2 separate regions of the Homo sapiens genome follow, and region 2 is linked to region 1. A link means that fine-mapping ties the variant in region 1 to the expression of a gene that starts in the linked region. Tissue or cell type: tibial artery. Region 1 holds a variant in brackets; the other region holds the start of a gene. All regions are shown on one strand. Distances are from middle to middle.

What was found. PIP is the estimated chance that this variant, and not a neighbour inherited with it, causes the effect.
Region 2: it holds the start of MKLN1, and the variant in region 1 is fine-mapped to the expression of MKLN1 in tibial artery (GTEx, PIP 0.98).

Annotation. Positions count from the first base shown.
Region 1 is chr7:131,573,271-131,583,611 of GRCh38, reverse strand. No RefSeq gene overlaps it. Among named protein-coding and RNA genes, the nearest start is that of PODXL, 22 kb to the right of the region's middle. RefSeq lists an enhancer at 1,299-1,903. The variant A/G (reference allele first, on the strand shown) is at 4,527.
Region 2 is chr7:131,322,427-131,332,767 of GRCh38, reverse strand. MKLN1 (muskelin 1) reads right to left here and starts at 4,892. Exons shown (of 18, transcript NM_013255.5): 1 at 4,771-4,892. The coding sequence starts at 4,868. It overlaps MKLN1-AS (MKLN1 antisense RNA), which reads left to right and starts at 4,989. Exons shown (of 6, transcript NR_125364.1): 1 at 4,989-5,153; 2 at 5,833-5,962; 3 at 8,343-8,465; 4 at 8,900-9,403. RefSeq lists enhancers at 3,974-4,550, 4,557-4,856, 4,551-5,127 and a silencer at 4,907-5,066.

The sequences.
Region 1 (10,341 bases):
CAGACCCGGGAGGTCTTATAATGTGCCACATTACAGGCTTTGCGTCCCACCAACCATGTCACAAGCTCGAGGGCAACAACCTTGTCTCCTACGTCTTCTGTGTCCCCCATGGCCCTGGCTCCTCCACTTGGGAACTTCACAAACCACAGGCTCTCGATTTTTCATTTGGAAGACTAGCACAGGGTTGTCAACTTTTTATTTTATCAAACAAACACATTTTTTTCCTTTTTTTTTTTTTTTTTTTTTTGAGACAGAGTTTCACTCTTGTTGCCCAGGCTGGAGTGCAATGGTGTGATCTCGGCTCACCACAATCTCTGCCTCCTGGGCTCAAGCGATTCTCCTGCCTCAGCCTCCCAAGTAGCTGGGATTACAGGCATGTGCCACCACCCCCAGCTAATTTTGTATTTTTAGTAGAGACGGGGTTTCTCCATGTTGGTCAGGCTGGTCTCGAACTCCCTACCTCAGGTGACCCGCCCGCCTCGGCCTCCCAAATTGCTGGGATTACAGGCATGAGCCACCGCACCCGGCCCAAACAAACACATTTTTTAAATTACTGTGTTGTCATAAACAAAGTCACATTTTAACACTAAGAAAGGAGAAAGAACATAATCCTAGAATAAACTTTTGAAATAACGCTATACTGCTAAGCTTATTCAATTTCAAAAGTTGAATACACAACTTTATTTATTCAATTTCAAAAGTGGAATAAACAACTTTTGAAACTGAATAAGCTTAGCAGTATAGAAAAATTCAACATATTTTTCTTTTTCTTTGTTTCAGAAAATCTCAGAAAAAGAGGACAGTCTTTTCCATGGAATACATTTAGCAAGATGGAAGATTCATTACATGTCTTTTCTTTTTCAGTTCCCAGGGGACAGGTGACCACTTTATCAATGTCCATCCCAGCATTTGGGAGCCACTGTCGACAGCCCCTCACCAGGGCTGAGCACAGCTCAAGTGAGTGGAGTAGTCATTTGATCTCTTGCTTTGGTTATTGGCAGGGGAAGCTATCCTGAGTGTCCTCTCACCAGATCAGGACTGGGATCCAGGGACATGACTAGTCCAGGCAGTGCAGCGGATGACCCCACACCCAGCTGTCCATCCCCTTAGACTCTGTCTCAAACATTTGTCTTTTTTTTTTTTTTTTTTTTTTTTTTTTTTGAGACAGAGCCTTACTCTGTTGCCCAGGCTGGCTGGAGTACAATGGAGTGATCTTGGCTCACTGCAACTTCCGCCTCCTGGGTTCAAGCGATTCTCCTTCCGCAGCCTCCCAAGTAGCTGGGATTACAGGCATCCGCCACTATATCCAGCTAATGTTTGTATTTTTAGTAGAGACAGGGTTTCACCATGTTGGCCAGGCTGGTTTTGAACTGCTGACCTCAAGTGATCACCTGCCTCAGCCTCCCAAAGTGCTGTGATTACAGGTGTGAGCCACCCCACCCAGCCCATTTGTCCTGATTTTGTGCTCCTGGAAACTGGACTCTGTAGGCACGCAGGTGTTTGTGACACTCACTGCTTCCCACTCTTGGGCAGTGAAGCCCTTGAGTCTCAGAGGAGCCAGGAGGGAGGGGGCATCTGGAGTGGTGAACAGGAGCCGGAAGCAAATGAGTCCCAGACACAGACACCCCCACACCATGGCGGCACAGCTCCTGGGGTGAGAGCCCTGAGCTTCAGTCCCCTGCTGCTGGGGCTCTGCCCTCTCCTTTCCCTCTCTGAGTGGGGCCTCTTCAGGAGGGAAATGCAACCTAACTTTCCACTGCTCAGCCCTGCATCCCTGCAGCCGCTTCCAAAAAAAGCCATTGCTGCCTGGATGGGAGAGAGAGAGAGAATTTTTCCAAAGGATGTGTGTGTGCATTGTTGGGAGCAGCAAGCATTTCAGTGAACCCCGGGTCACAGCACAGCCTGACAAATGGCAGGAAGTTCAGGACTTGGGCCTGATAGTTTTTGCACAAAGGCCCCATAGCCCAGCCAGGTGAGCTGGGCCCGGGGACGGACACAGGGGCCACCACCCGGCACTTCCTGCCCTTTGTTGGCCCATGTGACAGCCTTCCCGGCGCTCCAAATGGCCTTTCTTTGGTGCCTGACTCCTGTGCTTTATTTATGGAGAGGAGCTCCTCAATATAGAAACGGGTGGGCCAGGAGCCGGCGGCAGGATGTGGGAATGCAGACTGGCAGGGTGCCCACCACCGGGGGCAGGGTTGCCGAATTAAAAGTATGTGGCCATAGACACCCAATAAGCCTGCCTGATATTTATATATCTGACAAGATGTTCCGCACGCTCCCCTGGCACATTTCAGGGAATCACAGCCTGTCCTGGCAGAAGGCCTCCCTGTGGCCCCACCCTTGGGTTCTCATGGCCTGGTTGGCCTCTGCCTGGGTGTGAGTCAGGTCACCTGCCCTGACCCTCCAAGGTTGCGTGGGCTTCTTGAAGGAAGGGGCCATTTCTTTCTACCATAGGATAACCTTTGTTGCTGGCATCCTGGGGGTCAGCTAGATACCTGGGATATGTATTTATGGGCAACAGTGCATGTAGGACCCTTTTATGCTCCCAATCTTTTCTTTGTTAGCATCATTTCTGGTGGAAATCTTCCCAAAGGCAACTACACATACCCCTACTGTCTCAGATAAGATACTTAGAACAGAATTTGCCCTTTTCTTGGAAATTTGGGGTCTCAGTTCTGAGTCCTGGGTGGAGAGGTAGAGAGAGCCCCGACCAGTTAGGTTTGAGATCCGGGCTCCCACGCTCACACTGCCTGGCTATCTGTGCAACCTGGAGCAAGTTTCTTTTCTTTTTGAGACAGAGTCTTGCTCTATCACCCAGGCTAGAGTACAGTGGCATGATCTCAGCTCACTGCAACCTCCGCCTCTCAGGTTCAAACAATTCTCTTGTCTCAGCCTCCGAAGTAGCTGGGATTACAGGCACACACACACACCTTGCAGAGGTTGGCCTGACAATACTGTTCATCTAATTCACATGTTCTGCAGTTCCATGATTTGTTTTGTACCATGTGGTCATGCAGTGATGTCAATACAAAAGTGATTGAGTTACACAAGGCCATTTATCCTCCACACTAACTCACAGCTGACTTTTTGAGTTCCCATGACCATTTTTGGTAGATTTCCTTCTTTCCTATCTTGACTTTAGGCTAATTTTTAAAAACTGATACTGTAGAGATGGGGTCTTGCTGTGTTGCCCAGGCTGGTCTCAAACTCCCGGGCTCAAGCAATCTTCCCAACTTGGCCTCCCAAAGTGCTGGGATTACAGGCATGAGCCACTGCGCCCGGCCTAGGCCAATTTTAGACCATTGTTTATGGATCCATCCACAGCAGCAACTCTTTCTCTTTCAAGTTTGTGACTTCTTGATCTGCTATAACTATATGCAAATCAAGTATGAACAGCTAAGAGTAAACATGTAAATGCACAGATTTATGTGTGTACTTGAGGCATAATTCTGACTAATCAATGACTTTGTGTTTCCTTTCTAATTCTTACTTTTTTTTGTTTGTTGGTTTGTTGGTTTTTTTTTTTTTTTTTGAGACGGAGTCTCGCTCTCTTGCCCAGGCTGGAGTGCAGTGGCACAATCTCGGCTCACTGCAACCACCACCTTCCAGGTTCAAGCGATTCTCCCGCCTCAGCCTCCCAAGTAGCTGGGATCATAGGTGCTTGCCACCATGCCCAGCTAATTTTTGTATTTTTAGTAGAGACGGGGTTTCGTCATGTTGACCAGGCTGGTCTCGAACTCCTGACCTCAGGTGATCTGCACGCCTCGGCCTCCCAAAGTGCTGGGATTACAGGTGTGAGCCACCGCGCCTAGCCTTTTTTTTTTTTTTTTTTTTTGAGATAGAGTCTTACTCTGTCACCCAGGCTGGAGTGCAGTGGTGCAATCTCTGCTCACTGCAAACTCCGCCTCCAGGTTCCAGTGATTCTCCTGCCTCAGCCTCCCAAGTTGCTTGGATTACAGGTGCCTACCACGACACGTGGCTAATTTTTGTCTTTTTAGTCAAGACAAGGTTTTACCATATTGGCCAGGCTGGTCTCGAACTCCTGACCTCAAGTGATCCACCCACCTTGACCTCCTAAAGTGCTGGGATTACAGGTATAAGCCACCACGCCAGGCCCCTTTCCTAACGTTTGACCCTATTGTGGAGAAAGGAAGTTGTCAGAAAGCCAAAAGCACCCAGCGTGGTGGCTCATGCCTGTAATCCCAGCATTTTAGGAGGCCAAGGTGGGCAGATCACCTGAGGTTAGGAGTTCGAGACCAGCCTGGCCAACACAGTGAAAGCCCCATCTACTAAGAATACAAAAGTTAGCTGGGTGCAGTGGTGTGTGCCTGTAACCCCTGCTACTCCGGAGGCTGAGACAGGAGAATTGCTTGAACCTGGGAGACGGAGGTTGCAGTGAGCCAAGATCGTACCACTGCACTCTAGCCTGGGCAACAGAGCAAGACTCCATCTAAAAAAAAAAAAAAGTCGAAAGCACAATGAGGTACTACTGTACCTTGCTAATATACCTCTATTATACCTTT[A/G]TAGAACACAGCAGGAACTTAATAAATTATTGTTGAATGGGATATCCTCCCTTTCTACTAAAAAATTCACTGAGGGTATCAGTCTGCCTCATCCAAGTTTATTTCTGAGCAAAGGTGTGAAGTGTGAAGCAGACTAGGCCTGCATGCTTGTTTCACAAAACCCTGCTCCTCTGTCCTCTTCCTACAAAACATAACATTCCTTTCCCTTCCTCACAGCCTCCATGCCCCTCTTACATGGAGCCCCAGCCCATTATTCCCATGGAAGGAAAGGGATGAGGTAATTAGATTATCCTTCCTTCTCAGAAGGCAATTTGGAAGCCCCAGACGTCTCTAGAGGCCACACAGAGGCATTTCAGGAAGGTGATGCTGAAAAGATGATAATAACTGTGCCAGGTGTGGTGATTTACACCTGTAATCCCAGCAGTTTCGAAGGCCAAGGCGGACAGAACCCTTGAGTTTGGGGCCAGCCTGACCAACATGGTGAAACCCCGTCTCTACCAAAAAGTACAAAAGTTATCCGGGCATGGTGGCACAAGCCTGTAGTCCCATCTACTCAGGAGGCTAAGGCAGGAGAATCACTTGAACCCGGGAGGTGGAGGTTGCAGTGAGCTAAGATCGCACCACTGCACTCCAGCCTGGGTGACAGAGTGAGACCCTGTCTCAGAAAAAAAAAAAAAAAAAAAAGAAAGAAAAGAAAAGAAAAAAAGATAATAACTAACATTTGCACAGGCTTGGAAATTCACAGAGCATTCCACATGCTAGTGTCACCTAATTCGCTACCCCATCCTGAGATGGTATTGCCCGCATATGACAGGCCAGGTAGAGTTGAGCTATTTTCCAGGATGAATTTTCCGGCCAGGAATTTTCTCAGTGTCTCCACCCATCTTAGCTGGAAGGAAGCCAGGATGGTGGGAGATGGTGTTGCTGGGGAGTCAGGGGTGGTCACCTCCTTCTACGAGGTAAAGACAGAGCTATCCTTGAGTGGAGAGAAAAAGCGAGGAGGAGGCAGGAGGCACCAATCTCGGCGTCTGAAGTAAGACCGTAACTTCCTTATTAGAACAAGGTAATTAGCTGTAGGTTCTGGCTGACTTTGCCATCAGAGTACACTGGGACAAACCTGGGATTTGGGATCAGAAGACTTGAGCTGGACTGGAGCCCTGGCAGCCTTAACTGTCTCACCCTGGAGAAACTTAAACTCTCTGCGCTGCCTGTCAATTCCCTTGTCTACAAAAGGAGAATGATAACAGCAACCATAAAACAACAACAACAACAACACAACGGCAGCAGCGACAATACAGCCACAGCAGCAACAATACTTGCTCTCATTCTTCTTCATAAGGTCAGTATGAAGATCAAGTGGGTCCGTGCCCATGGAAATGCCCCTACGACATAAACCACAATATTCTAGCAGGTTGTCCTTGGTTTTCACTCATCCCACAGATATTAATTGAGCACTTACTATGCTCTGGGCCCTGAGTTAAGCCCTGAGAATTCAATGAAGAAAGAAATGGAAAGGTATCCCCAGTGTTTGTCCTCATAGGATCAACTACTTCATTTCTCCACGACCCTCTGCTTTGGAACCACTAGGCTGTGGAGCAGGGTGGGCCGCCTCTTTGGACATCAGTGTCATTATCTGTTGTAATTGTTGCTGTAAGAATTAAGTGACTTTGGCCGGACGCGGTGGCTCACACCTGTAATCCCAGCACTTTGATAGGTCGAGGCAGGCGGATCACCTGAGGTCAGGAGTTCAAGACCAGCCTGGCCAACAGCAAAACCCCATCTCTACTAAAAAAACACAAAAATTAGCTAGGCATGGTGGCAGGTGCCTGTAATCCTAGCTACTTGGAAGGCTGAGGCAGGAAGAATTGTTTGAATCTGGGAGGCAGAGGTTGCAGTGAACTGAGATCATGCCACTGTACTCCAGCCTGGGTTACAAGCGAGACTCCATCTCAAAAAAAAAAAAGTATTAAGTGACTTAATTTATATGAAACATCTACATGTGACTTAATGCCTGTCACAGAAGAGACACTCAATGATTGTTAGCTTTTTCTCTAAAAGTGTCCTTCAAGATCACACCTCTCTCTCTGAACAAGAAGACTTAGTCACTGACTAAAATACCTTCCTGTGCTCAATGCAGATGGCTAAGACATTTCAAGGCTCTGCTGCTCCATGGAGCTCTGAGCTTTAAAGCATTCCATCCACCTTGGTCGTGAGCACGCTCTGTGCTTTGCCCTCCAAATAGACCTAGAGCTCCTGGAAGGTAGGGACCCACCCACCCAGCCTGGTTCTCCTCCTGTGGTGGGCCCAGGAAGGGACTAGCAACCTGTCCGCTCTCAAGTCAGTGAGAATGCACTCACAGCTCTAGTTCTGTGGACTTCCCTTCTGGCTTGCCACTGAAGTGTGAAGTGTTCTGAGAGCAAGGCCAGGAAGGGTCAGGAAGAGCCTCTGACACTCACAGTTAAGGAAGGATAATTTAATAGTCTTAGGAACAGTCATTATTCTATTTTCTCTGACAAAACCAGTCCAGGTATGAAAAACCAGCCACAGTCGGGCGCGGTGGCTCACACCTGTAATCCAGCACTTTGGGAGGGTGAGGTGGGTGGATCACTCGAGGTCAGCAGTTTGAGACCAACCTGGCCAAAATGGTGAAACCCCGTCTCTACTAAAAATAATTACAAAAATCAGCTGGGCATGGTGGCGCATGCCTGTAATCCCAGCTACTCAGGAGGCTGAGGCATGAGAATTGCTTAAACCCAGGAGGCAGAGGTTGCTGTGAGCTGAAATCATGTCACTGCCCTCCAGCCTGGGTGATACAGTGAGACTCCGTCTCAAAAAAAAAAAAAAAGAAAAACCAGCCACAAAGATTGTGAACTGGACACTATTCTCTGGCTCCCTTCTCCCAGCTTGTAGAGCCCACCTCAACCCTAGGGAGTGTCCCATGTAAGAACATGGTTCTCCAGTCTGGCCACAACCTCCTGCCCTCCTGCCATGGTTCCAGGCCCAGATGGCTTATCTGTGCTAGTTAGGAAAAGGCACTGCATGTTCTGGGCAGGCCAAGCCCACACCAGGGCACAATCAACCTCATCAGTCAAGGCAGCCCTCCCAGCTCCTGCAGTGATGGCAGCCACTAGGTGCCATTGATGTGGAAGCCTGCAGGGCTACCCTGACCTCGATGGAGCTTCTGGCCATCACAGCCTGGGCCACTGAGGCCACCAAGCCTTCTCACTCCTCAGTAGAGATGTTACTCAAGCATATCTTTTTTTTTTTTTTTTGAGACAGAGTCTTGCTCTGTCACCCAGGCTGGAGTGCAGTGGCACAACCTCGGCTCACTGCAACCTCTGTCTCCCAGGTTCAAGCACTTCTCCCACCTCAGCCTCCTGAGTAGCTGGGATTACAGGCACCTGCCACCATGCCCAGCTAATTTTTGTATTTTTAGTAGAGACAGAGTTTCACTATGTTGGTCAGGCTGGTCTCAAACTCCTGACCCCAGGCAATCCACTCGCCTCGGCCTCCCAAAGTGCTGGGATTTGCAGGCGTGAGCCACCGTGCCTGGCCCTTTTTTTAAAGACAGGGTCTCCTGTCATCCAGCCTTGCCCTCCCAGGCTGAAATGATCCTCCCATCTCAGCCTCCCCAGTAGGTGGGACTACAGACATGCACCACCATGCATGGCTAATTTTTTTTTTTTTTTTGAGACAGAGTCTCGCTCAGTTGCCCAGGCTGGAGTGCAGTGGCTCGATCTCCGCTCACTGCAAGCTCCGTCTCCTGGGTTCACACCATTCTCCTGCCTCAGCCTCCTGAGTAGCTGGGACTACAGGTGCCCATCACCACGCCCAGCTAATTATTTTGTATTTTTTTTTAGTAGAGACGGGGTTTCACCATGTTAGCCAGGATGGTCGTGATCTCCTGACCTCATGATCCACCCTTCTCGGCCTCCCAAGGTGCTGGGATTACACATGCATGGCTAATTTTTAAAAAAATTTTTTGTAGAGATGGGGTCTCCCTGTGTTGACCAGGCTGGTCTCGAACTCCTGGACTCAAGCGATCCACCCACCTTGGCCTCCCAAAGTGCTGGGATTACAAGCGTGAACCACTGCGCCTGGCATCAAGTTCGTCATCTTGTTTTTATTTCCTCTATGATTCAGTCTTCTCGCTCTGGGAGCTGGGCCACAGGATAGCCTGGGAAATAGACACTTTCTGGCCTCAAGAGTTGAATCTTCTCTCTGTCCTTGGCCTATTGTTCTAGAACCTGAGAGAGTGTGACTCTCTCATTCCTTAGGGCTAATTCTCTGCCCAAAGGCTTTTGAACTCTCCATGCAGCTCCATGCAGGTAAAGGGCTCTATGCAGGTAAAGGAAGCCCTTTGATAGACCTGAGCCCCGATGGAAACACAGCCTCATTTTAAACTGGACTGTAAATAAACAGTCATCCTCGACATCTCAAGATGCTTTCGTCTAATTGCCCTTCCATGCGTGAATGCCCACCTTTGGGGCCTCTGGTGAACCCTTCACTCATAGGTCCTCCTGGGGAATCCATTTCATTTTTTACATTGCTTTCATTGATGAAAAGTTCATTCCACAGATCCGTTCCAAAGTCCCAGATCCGGCCCTCAATTCTGGGGACAAGCCAGACCCGGTCTCTGCTCACAAGGAGCTTAAATTTAAGCAGGAATGGAAGGCGGAGAGATCTCAGGGAGCATATAAATTATGATGAGAAGGTCGGGTGCGGTGGCTGCCCCCTGCAATCCCAGCACTTTGGGAGGCCAAGGCGGGAGGATGGCTTGAGCCCAGGAGTTGGCAATCAGCCCAGGCAACATAGGGAGACCCTATCTCTATAAAAAATAAAAATAAATTAGCCAGGCATAGTGGCACACACCCAATGGTCCCAGCCCCACGAGAGGCTGAGGTGGGAGGATGGCTTGAGCCCAGGAGGTCAAGGCTGCAGTGAGCTGTGATTATATTACTGCACACCAGCCTGGGCAACAGAGTGAGACCCTGTCTCAACAAACGAACAAACAAACAAGCAAACAAAAAAGCACAATGGACATTGATTGTCTCACAGTTCTGGAGGCTAGAAGTCTGAGTGCAGGGTGTGGGCAATGTTGATTCTGGCTTGGGTCTCTGGGGGAGAATCTGTTCCAGAGCTCTCTCCTGGTTCCTGGTGATGGCCAGTGATCCTAGGCGTCCCTAGGCTGTAGGTGCGTCACCCCAGTCTCTGCCTCCATCTTCACATGGCCATCTTCTCTCTGTGTGCCTCTCTCTGAGTCTCCACATGGGATTTTCCTCTCTGTATCTTCTCTTCTTTTTTTTTTTGAGACAGAGTCTCCCTCTGTTGCCCAGGCCAGAGTGCAGTGGCATGATCTCGGCTCACTGCAACCTCCGCCTCCCATGTTCAAGCAATTCTCCCACCTCAGCCTCCCAAGTAGCTGGGATTACAGGCGTGCACCACCACACCTGTAATTTTTGTATTTTAGTAGAGACGGGGTTTCACCATGTTGGCCAGGTTGGTCTCGAACTACTGACCTCAGGTGATCTGCCCACCTCAGCCTCCCAAAGTGCTGGGATAACAGGTATGAGCCACCATGCCCGGCCCTTCTCCTCTTCTTATAAGAACATCAGTGGCGTGGGATTAAGGGTCTACCTTCTTCCAATATGACCTGGTCTTAACTACATCTGCAATGACACTATTTCCAAGTAGGTTGCGTTCTGAGGTGCTGGGGGTTAGGACTTCAACATACATCTTTTTTTCTGGGGACTAAATTCAATTCATAGTACTTGGTAAGTTTAAACTCTTTCTTCTCTTCTAAAATAGATATAAC
Region 2 (10,341 bases), 250 kb after region 1:
AAAAAAATACAATATAGAAGAATATTTAATAACATAAGGAAGTATTTACTATATGTTAAGGAGGAAAAAGCAAATACAGAACAGCAAACAGGACAACAGTAAATTGAAAAATACATACATCTACAGTAAAAGATCTGGAATGATAATAAACAGTATTTAAAGGGTGACTAGTAATCTTTAGGTAGTGATATCAAGGGTAATTTAAATTTTGTTTCTGTGGGTCCATATTTTACAAATATTCGATAATAAACATAGAGCATTTTTTACATCAAAATATATATTAAAAGATATATAAAATATATTTTAATATATATGATATAAAAAGTGTCTATTTTTTTCTTAGACATGGGGTATTGACGAGATGCTGTCTTTTTCTTTTGTAGAGACAAAGAAGAAAAGAATATATATATATTTACATATTTTTAACATAATAATATATAACTATGCACATATATTTTATGTAATAAAAATATATAAATATTTATATATTTTTTTTCTTTTGTAGAGATGGGGTATGTTTCCCAGGCTGGTCTCAAACTCCTGGTCTCAAGTGATGGTCCTGCCTCAGCCTCCCAAAGTGCTAGGATTACAGGCATGAGCCACCGTGCCTAGCCTATATTCATTTTTAAATGTGAAATTTTAAAATTAGTTTTGAAAAGAGTTGAAATAAATTCACCTTCTATTCTAGTTGTCAAATCATAACACTTGTACTCTGAACCATGAATCAATCACATGTTGACACAAGGTACTATTTTAAGTACTATTTGATTTTAAGTAATAAGACTAACAGGAAAAAGGTAAACACACTTAAAAATCTATCAGATTTTATCATCTAAATTATCTAAGTCATTCAATAATATGTAAACAAGATAAGAATCATTCTATACCAATGAAATTACCTAATATGTAAAAAATACTTTCAAAGTTTCTCCCAGTTCTCATATGAGTATACTAAAATCTTAAACATCAAGATAAAATCTATTTTTCCCTCTCTTGCTGTTCTAACCTTAGAGCGCTTATCTGTAATCTCAATTAGACATATACAATAGCCATGTATAATAATGAACAGCTTTCGTAACAGAAGTCAAAAGGCCCAATATGAGAACCTTATCACCTACATTTTCTTCCTCCTCATCATTATTATTATTGCAGATGGGGTCTCATTGTGTTGCCCATGCTGGTCTCAAACTCCTGGGCACAAGTGATCCTCCTGCCTTGGCCTCCCAAAGTGCAGGGATTACAGGTGTGAGCCACCCTGCCCTGCCCCTCTTACATTTTCAACTCTTAGACCTGGGCAAGTTAACTTACCTCCCTAAATCTCACTTTTCCTAGCTCTAAAATAGAATAATAATATTTATCTCATAGGGTTTTTGTGAAGACTATTATATCAAAGAACACATGCTAAATGCTCAGTACAGTGCCTGAAGAATAGAAAGTACTCAATAAGTGGTGACTGTTATTAAAGTCACAATGCAATAGTTTTTAAGTCAGAAAACCTGGCAAGCCTCTGGAAAACTATATGACCCTGGGCAAGCTACTTACCCTGTATGGACCTCAGTTTCATCCTCCACAAAACATATATAAAATACCTATCTTACAGGTATGTACCAAGAATTAAACAAAACTGTATACAAAAAGCATCTTGCATATATTAGGTGCTCACTAAATTGTAACTAGCATCATTATTAGATACAAAAATAAACATTTGAGTACAGGGATTAGCAGTTTACAAAATATTTTTATGTATAAGAGTATATGTAATTTTATGAATTATTTAAATAAGTGTATTTAATTATTAAATTAGGTGTAAATTTCAGAAAAAAAGTAAAATACAGGCAATCTCTAAGCACACAAAAATAAAAGGCCTTTTTTTAGTCTCAAAGTAAAAATGTGTTCCCTATAACTGAATCTGCTTTAACATTTTTAAAGTCCAAATAAATTAAAAAGAGTTGAAAGGGGAAATATTTGTTTTTTCTGCCTCTGGAAGAAGGGGAAAAGAATTCTAAGTCCTTAGAAAGAAAATAGAGATAAAATTGTTCAATTTTTTTTAATGACTTCACATTTCTTTACACAACTAAAATGTAAGTGCCTTTAATACAAGAGCTCTTTTAAAGTTCTGATTTCCTGTACTATATATACCTTTGTGCAGAAGCAGTAAAACACTATAGTTAAAGACCACAGACTGTGGAGCCTGACTACCTTGATTCAAATTCTGGTTCCATCTAGCTGTGTGACCTTAGGCAAGTTTAAACTTCTCCCTACCTGCTTCCAACATCTGGCAAACGGAGATTCCTCTTGGGATTGCGGTAAGGATTAAATGAGTTGATACACTTAAAAATGTTCATAAGAGAGCCTAGCAAATGGACGGCACATCATAAATGTTTACCATTTTTGTTACTGATTTATTACTGCCACCTCGAAATGCTTAGATCTATGCCAACAAATATTTGCCACTTTGTGGACAATTTCAACAAATGTCTTTAACCTAAAATGAGACCTGTTTAAGAAGTACCTTAATATGGTTTCCACTGCCAGTAAAGATACAACAATTGCTGCTAGAGGGGATTTTAGGGCAAAGGTAAGTAAAGTCAACCCCTTTCCTACATCTTCTGTCACACAGAGAAGTAATATCCTTGCTTGCTTATAGAAGTTCAGAGCCAAGAGTTTTATAATTTAGGCATGGCACACACCAACCCAGCAGACACAATATTCTCCAACTCCAGCTCCATAATACTCAACTATACTCCTTCAAAGAAAAAAGCTTAGATTACTCTTCTAATACTTTACTTTAAATACAAATTATACTGCATTTGTCAATAGAATGTCATAAGGATTAAACAAGATATAGTAAGTGGAAGTGTATGAAAGTTACGTATGTATTAAATACTATTTTATGTATGTACTTGAGAAAATTGCAGCAATGTATTTCTCCAATCTCAAATTGTTGCTTTCTAACTCCAAAACTAGTGTTCTGCCCACTGCAAACCAGGGGCCAGAGTAACAAGACACAAAAGATTAAAGTTGCCATCCCACTAAATCATTTCCTGCTTGAAATGTACTTTCTTAAAATGTCTATACAACAGATAACGCGGATGGTACTTGTGTTATCCAAGCCTCAGGCCTACATCAAAAATTTAAGGAGTGACGTCCTGGAAATACGCTAATTCAAGACCAGAAAAATGTCTCTACAGTTAGATCAAACAATGCCACACCAATTCCCAACTGTCCATAATCCTAGCCTGGGTATAGAAAAAAGCTGAATAACTTCAGATCCAAGAACAAGATAGCCCAGAATATCAGAGGTCAAGTACATAGGGCCACATTTCAACTCCAACTACATGGCTGGACTGTTTATCTGGCTCACTCTCAAATTCAAAGTTGGGTTTCAGCATCAATCAGGGATATGGCCATGAATAGGCTACGCAGGCCAGATCAAACCACAGGTCACTTGGCACCCTTCATTGGGCCAGATCCTACTGAATGCCAACCCTTGACCTGGTGAATAAAATGGGAGGCTGGCAGTCATGACAGATTCTTCCAGTTGCAGCTCCATTTTGAGATTCTTCATTGATATAACCAGTGAAATCAAATTTGGATAAATGTGAAGAATTTCTCAAATACAGATGGAAAACTTACTTGAGTATGCTTCACAGATCTAGTCACTTTTTTGTTTAGTAAAATACTCAGTAAAATATATTATTCATTAATTTGTTTCGTTCATAAAATCGTTTCGGTCCTGTGAGATGGTTAGAGGGACAACTAGCACTTTTCTTCAGGATCTGCACAGATCTTAACCCTTTACTAAGCCAGTTCCTCCACTAGCATGTAAAATTGGAGTTAGATCTGCTCCTCCTTTCAAAGATAAGCCAAAGATAAATAAGATACTATGTAAGAGTATTTTCAGCATTTCAGAAGGAATTTGCTAGAGAAAAAAACACCACCAACAAAAACCTAACAATGCAACTGAATTTTTTTAACACCTAAATCAGGGATCAAGACAAAGCCGGTGTTGAAAATCAAATTCATTAAAGCCAGATGTTTCTATGTTTGAGTTTCCGGACTGGGAAACGTGTCTGTGTCCATACAAACCCATCTTCTAATGAGCCGTAATACTGAAATTCTTCGGTAACGTCCCTCCTTCCCACTCCCTATCTTTTTCAGAACTTCCAGGCATTAAAGACAACGTCTGCCAATCCTACAAGTTCTCCCCGCCTGCTAGGATTCAGATGGATTCCACAACTTTTCAGCCTTCCGTGACTTTTAACACTACTCTAGAGCTAATCACTTTTAATGACCCCACTCTGGAATAGACACTCCTCGGCTTTACACTTTGTCCCGGCAGCAATCGACTGAACTGTCCCCCGACGCCGACCACCTCGGACGACCTCAGACATTCGGGGTAGTTTGCCCGCGGGCAGGGCCCCGCCAACTCCGATTCCTGCCCCAGAGCCGTCCGCCCCCCAAGCCCTCCTCAACCTCAACCCCCAAATCCCAAGCGCAGAACCGCTGGGCTTCCGGTTCTCCTGTGCGCGCCCCGGATCCGCCACACACCTCGCCCCTTCTCCCTGGGCTCGCTCTCCGGACCCTAACCCCTTCCCGAGCGAGGCCGAGCAACGCTCTCAGCAGCTGAACTAAGACTCCGGAGGCCGCACGTCCCCCTCAGCAGGCCCCGCCTGGGCCTCTCGGCTCGGCTGCCCTCCATTGCACCCCTGGCCCAACCGTGCTGACGCGGAAGGGTGGGGCAGCACGAGCTCAAGGCCCGGCACTTACTCGGGAAGGTAGGTGGAGGAAAAGGAGCTCCACTTGTGTAGCGCGTAGGGGAGAAGCCGGCACTCGGGCGCCGCAGCGACAGCTCCGCCAGCCGCCATCTTGTCAGCACCGTAGCGGCCGCCACCGACCGCTGGCAGCGAACGGGAGGAGGGGAGGGGGCGTGGCCTGCTCTTAAAGGGGCCGCCGCCCTCCCCGGCCGCCCGCGCTCCCCGCCCCGCATCGTTACCCGAGCCCAGCGCCGGGCCAATGTCCTATCTCAGGGTTTCCCACGTCGCTCGCTCCTTGACGGCTGACCGACACTGGGTCTGAGGTGTAAGCGCTTTCCAGGCCCTTCCCTGGGGCTTGGAGGGGAATGGCGCAAAGGACTTTTCTTACAAGCAGAGGTAAGGAAAAGCCGAGATGATTACGAACAGAAACACGTTGTAGTTATGGAGCAGGAAGGGAAAATAAGAAGACCAAGTTGGAAAAGGGACGCCTGTGCGCTTTTGGAAGCCACCGCCCTCGCCAGTTTATAAGTCCTTTACGGAAACAACACTGAAGGGAGCTGGAGGGCAGTAGCTAATGTGCTGTCCTCCTGGAGTGGTCCTGGTTTTAAATGTCTTGTCCCCGCCTTCCAGAGTCAGATGGAGACAGGAAAAGGAAATGGTCCCGTGTCCTCCTACCCTGTTTGGTTTGCAGTCTGTGATGCCCTTCATTGTAAACATTTCTTGTGAGCCGCATCCTACTAATCTTGTGGCATTGGTTTGCTCGGGAATGACGTTCACCCACAGACCTGAAAAGTCCTTACAGAGTTGGGAAGCTGCGTGTCATCATTTTTTCAGTTGGCAAATCTGCCCACTTTGAACTGACATAATTGTAGCCTAAAAGTTCAGAGAGAGAGTAGTTCAGGAAAAAGACTATTCCTTCTTCTTAGAGGGAACAGCAGCCCTGAAAACTATGTGGACATCATACCAGCTTCTTACAACAAAAGGTGCACTTGGTCTAAATTATCTGGCAGCTCTAGATAACGTTCTCATCAAGTACCTGTTTGTTGTAGTTATGCATATTTATTCCTTGGCTTAGCCACTGCAGTTACCAAAGAGTATGTCGCTTATTGTCTAAGAGGTTGGACTCCTGAAAGCCTGGACAGTGTCATCATCTTCACCTGAAGAGTGGAAAAATTCAAGCAAAGAGTTTCTCAGGAAATGACCAAGTGAGTCAAAACACCTCAATAATTGTATTCTCTTCCCGTTGTAATCATTAACCTGCCGAAATTCCCTCCAGTCCTTTCCTGACTTCCTGTTTCTATAGATGGAAATTTTAATAGTGGGCTCTACTAGGATATCAAATCAAAAAAGCCAGATAGAAAGGCCAGGCCCGGCACGGTGGCTCACACCTGTAATCCCAGCACGTTGGGAGGCTGAGGTGGGTGGATCACCTGAGGTCAGGAGTTCGAAACCAGCGTGGCCAACATGGTGAAACCCCGTCTCTACTAAAAATACAAAAGTTAGCTGCGTGTGGTGACATACACCTATAATCTCAGCTACTTGGGAGGCCGAGGCACAAGAATCACTTGAACCCAGGAGGCAGAGGTTGCAGTGAGCCAAGATCACACCACTGCACTCCAGCCTGGGCAACAGAGTGAAATTCTGTCTCAGAAAAACAAATAAAATACAATAAAATAAAAAATTACATGTGCTTTCTGTGTTGCAGCAGGTTGGAAAAGCATGTGTTCCTTAAGGGAATGCTGTAACTGTAGTGACTTGGGTCGGGAGCTGCCAGAGACAGTGGGAAAGGGCCAGAGAATGTTAGCCCCAGAGATGATATAGTGGTTATCTTTGAAGAAAATAGACACTTTAAAGGGGAGGAATTAACTCACTCCAATTCCTTTGGGCCCCAGATTTTATAATTCCACTTCTTACCTTAATGTAAGTCAAGTCCTTGTTCTTTTCCAGACATAGTTCCTGAGCAATCTTTTTTAAAAACACATGTTAATTAGTTCTTCTTAAGCTTAAATCCTTTTGGTGACTTTCAATACCCTTCTAAACTGTTTAACAGAGGCCCTTCATAACCTGCCTTGATTTTTCTCTCCAGCTTCCTCACCACCACCCCCCCCCCACTTTTCTCCTTTGCGCTTTTGACATCTGCCCACTAACTAGCACACTGAATTTGTTCCCATAGAGTCCTTGTTCTCTCTAGCCTCCGGAGCTTGCTCTAAGCCAGGCATGGAATATTCTTTCCCATTCTTTACCTGGCTAACTCCAGCTCATCCTGTAGACTGTTTGGTCCTGGAAATTTTTTTGGTTTTTTTTTTTTGAGACAGAATCTCACTCTGACTCTGTCACCCAGGATGGAGTGCAGTCACATGAACATGACTCACTGCAGCCTTGACCTCCTGGGTTTAAAGGATCATGCTGCCTCAGCCTCCCATGTAGGTGGGACCACAGGCAGACATCACCACACCAAGCTACTTTTTAAATTTTTTTGTAGACACAGGGTTTCACTCTGTTGCCCAGGCTGGTCTTGAACTCCTGGGCTCAAGCGATCCTCCTGCCTCGGCCTGGCCTCCCAAAGTGCTGGGATTACAGGTATGAGCCACTGCGTCTGGCCGAAAATCTTTCTTCAACACCTGCTCTGGGATTAGGTGACAGTTTTCTTCATTTTTTTTTTCCTATGCAAGCTAACACAGGATAGGTAACATTTTTTACATTTCTCTTAGCACTCTAAGTTTCCCTCTTTATCTTAGCACACATCACAATATATTTTAATTTTCTCTTTTTTCCCCTTTCTTTCTCTCTAAATGATAGCTCCCATGAAGATAAGAGTCATACATATCTTGTTCACAGTTGTATCCTCAGTCCTGTTGATGTGTCTAGCAAATAAAGATGTTCAGTAAATATTTATCAAAGAGTGAATGAATAATGCTAAAAGAGAACTTTAATTAGAGACTTCTGAGTTGCAAAGGAAAAAAAAAATGCCAGCACTTCTCAGACTACAAACGTGTATCCCTGAGGTATAATTGCTACTCAGAAGGTAAAGACCCAGGATAGCATGGCTTTCCTGCATCACAAATTTTATAAATGGTAAAATAATTTAAAGCATTCCTATGTTAACATACAGACAGCTATATTATGATACCAAGACGAAAATTTGTTTAAATGTTAAGAAAAGAACTTTATCTGAGGAATGCAAATCCTTTTAAATTATGAGGCCCAGAGAGGCATTAAAGTGAAACAGCAATCCTGTCCTTCTCCCCCACTTTTGAACTGTGTATTTGTCTCTTGAAACTGCTTACTATTGCCACAGAAGCTAAACATTAACCTACTAATTAATGCTGCACCAGACATTATAACCCTCATCCTATAGTTTCATAATGTATAGCCAATCAGTAGCTTGATTTATTTTAATGTAAATTCTTGGTAAATAACTCAGGCACTGCCTCATCTTTCCCTTTAAAAATCCACTTGTAACTGCTGCTACTCAGAGTGTATATTCAAGGCAACCTGAATCTATGTTCCCAGGTTGCAGTCATCAAGCTTGGCCCAAATAAACTCCCAACTTATATTAATTTTGCCTCCGCTTCTTCCTTTTAGGTAAAACATCTGGAGTAAGTCAGCAGGATTCACAGTGACTCCCCCCAACCAGCTGGTGGTGTTTCTCTCTGAAAGCAGCGCTTGGTACCAGTGTGAACTCTCTTCCTTCAGAAGTCTCATCAGGTGTTTCAGATGAGTTCTCCGGAATTTGGACCTCCTACTCTTGGGTTGAAGGTCTAGACTTTATTTGGGCTGTTTTTCAAACCCTTTCTTTAAGTGTGAGGGCTTCGGTCTCTGTCTTTGGACAGAAGATTCGGGTATAGAGCTCTGCAGGGAACTGCCTTTTTTCCCTCTCTGTCTTACAGCAGAGGTGCAGGTCATGGTTTTTCTGCCTCTGCCTCAGAACCAGGGGTTTGGGTCAAGTTTTTTTCACCTCTGTCTCACAGCAGAGGTTTGAGTGAAAGAACTGGCAGTTAGGCACCAGTGGTTTCATTTTATATCGTATGTGTTTGAGATAGCAGTTGTTTACTATCACTTGAAAATTCTGAATTAGTCTTTAATTTTAACTAATTCCTGTTAGTTCCTAACTGAAATGTGTACCCCTTTTGCTCTTCCAGGTGGACGTAATACGAGGGTCTGGTCCCCCATACCTTGAGGACTCCGCTGCCATCTGACAATTACAGACAATCCAATTGTCCTCATCCTTGAGGACTCTGCTGCCATCTGACAATTAGAGACAGTCCAAAACATGCCACACTTTGATCCTAAACACATTCCTGGCTTTGGTCACTTTTGAAAAGTTCCTGAGTTATGAGAAATCAATAATAAGAGTGTTCAAAACCTGAACACTCTTTTTAGAAATACCTGCTGGAACTACATATATGATTTATGGGGTACTGTCTTGTAGTATCTGGGAAAGTAGACCCATCTAACCTGGAATGATCATAGGCAACAATGACCAAAAATGGGGATCTTTTGATATACCTAAAGTAATTTATTTGTGCACACCATTGGAAAGAGCTGGTTTTAGAACCAGACATGTAAATAAGAGACTGACTTCCACTGGCACCTAAAAACTTCTAAAAGAAATCCTGAAAGAAAAAGTCACCTTCATTCAAGAGGTAAACAAAGGGATATTTGAAACTATGTTAAAAGACTTCAGAGGCTTTCTCCCTTTCACCTCCAGACCCTCCTTTTCCTTCCAGCCCTGTGATCTGAACTCATCCCTTTCTGCCGCTTCTCTTGGCTTCCATACATCTCTTAGGCAGAGATGTTTTAAAATTTCACAATGTACACATTTCCTTCTCTCAGGGGAAATGAATTTAAATTTAGAGCAGAAGGAACAAGCAGAACAACAACAGAATGGGAATAAGACTGCTGAGACTATAAAAATGCAGATCCAACAAAATTTTTTCTCACCAGGTCTAGTGAATGACACTGTGATATGGTCTGGCTCTGTGTTCCCAACAAAATGTCATCTCGAATTGTAATCCCCACGTGTCGGGGGAGAAGCCTGGTGGGAGATGATTGGATCATGGAGGCAGTTTCCCCCATGCTGTTTTCATGATAGGGAGGGAGTTCTTACGAGATGTGATGGTTTAAAAGTGTTTGGCAGTGGCCGGGCGCGGTGGCTCACGCCTGTAATCCCAGCACTTTGGGAGGCCGAGGCGGGTGGATCATGAGGTCAGGAGATCGAGACCATCCTGGCTAACAAGGTGAAACCCCGTCTCTACTAAAAATACAAAAAATTAGCCGGGCGCGGTGGCGGGCGCCTGTAGTCCCAGCTACTCGGGAGGCTGAGGCAGGAGAATGGCGTGAACCCGGGAAGCGGAGCTTGCAGTGAGCCGAGATTGCGCCACTGCAGTCCGCAGTCCGGCCTGGGCGACAGAGCGAGACTCCGTCTCAAAAAAAAAAAAAAAAAAAAAAAAGTGTTTGGCAGTTCCCTTTCTGGCTTTCTCTCTCCTACTGCCTTGTGAAGAAGGTGCTTGCTTCTCCTTCACCTTCCACCCTGATTTTAAGTTTCCTGAGGCCTCCCCAGCCATGTAGAACTGTGAGTCAA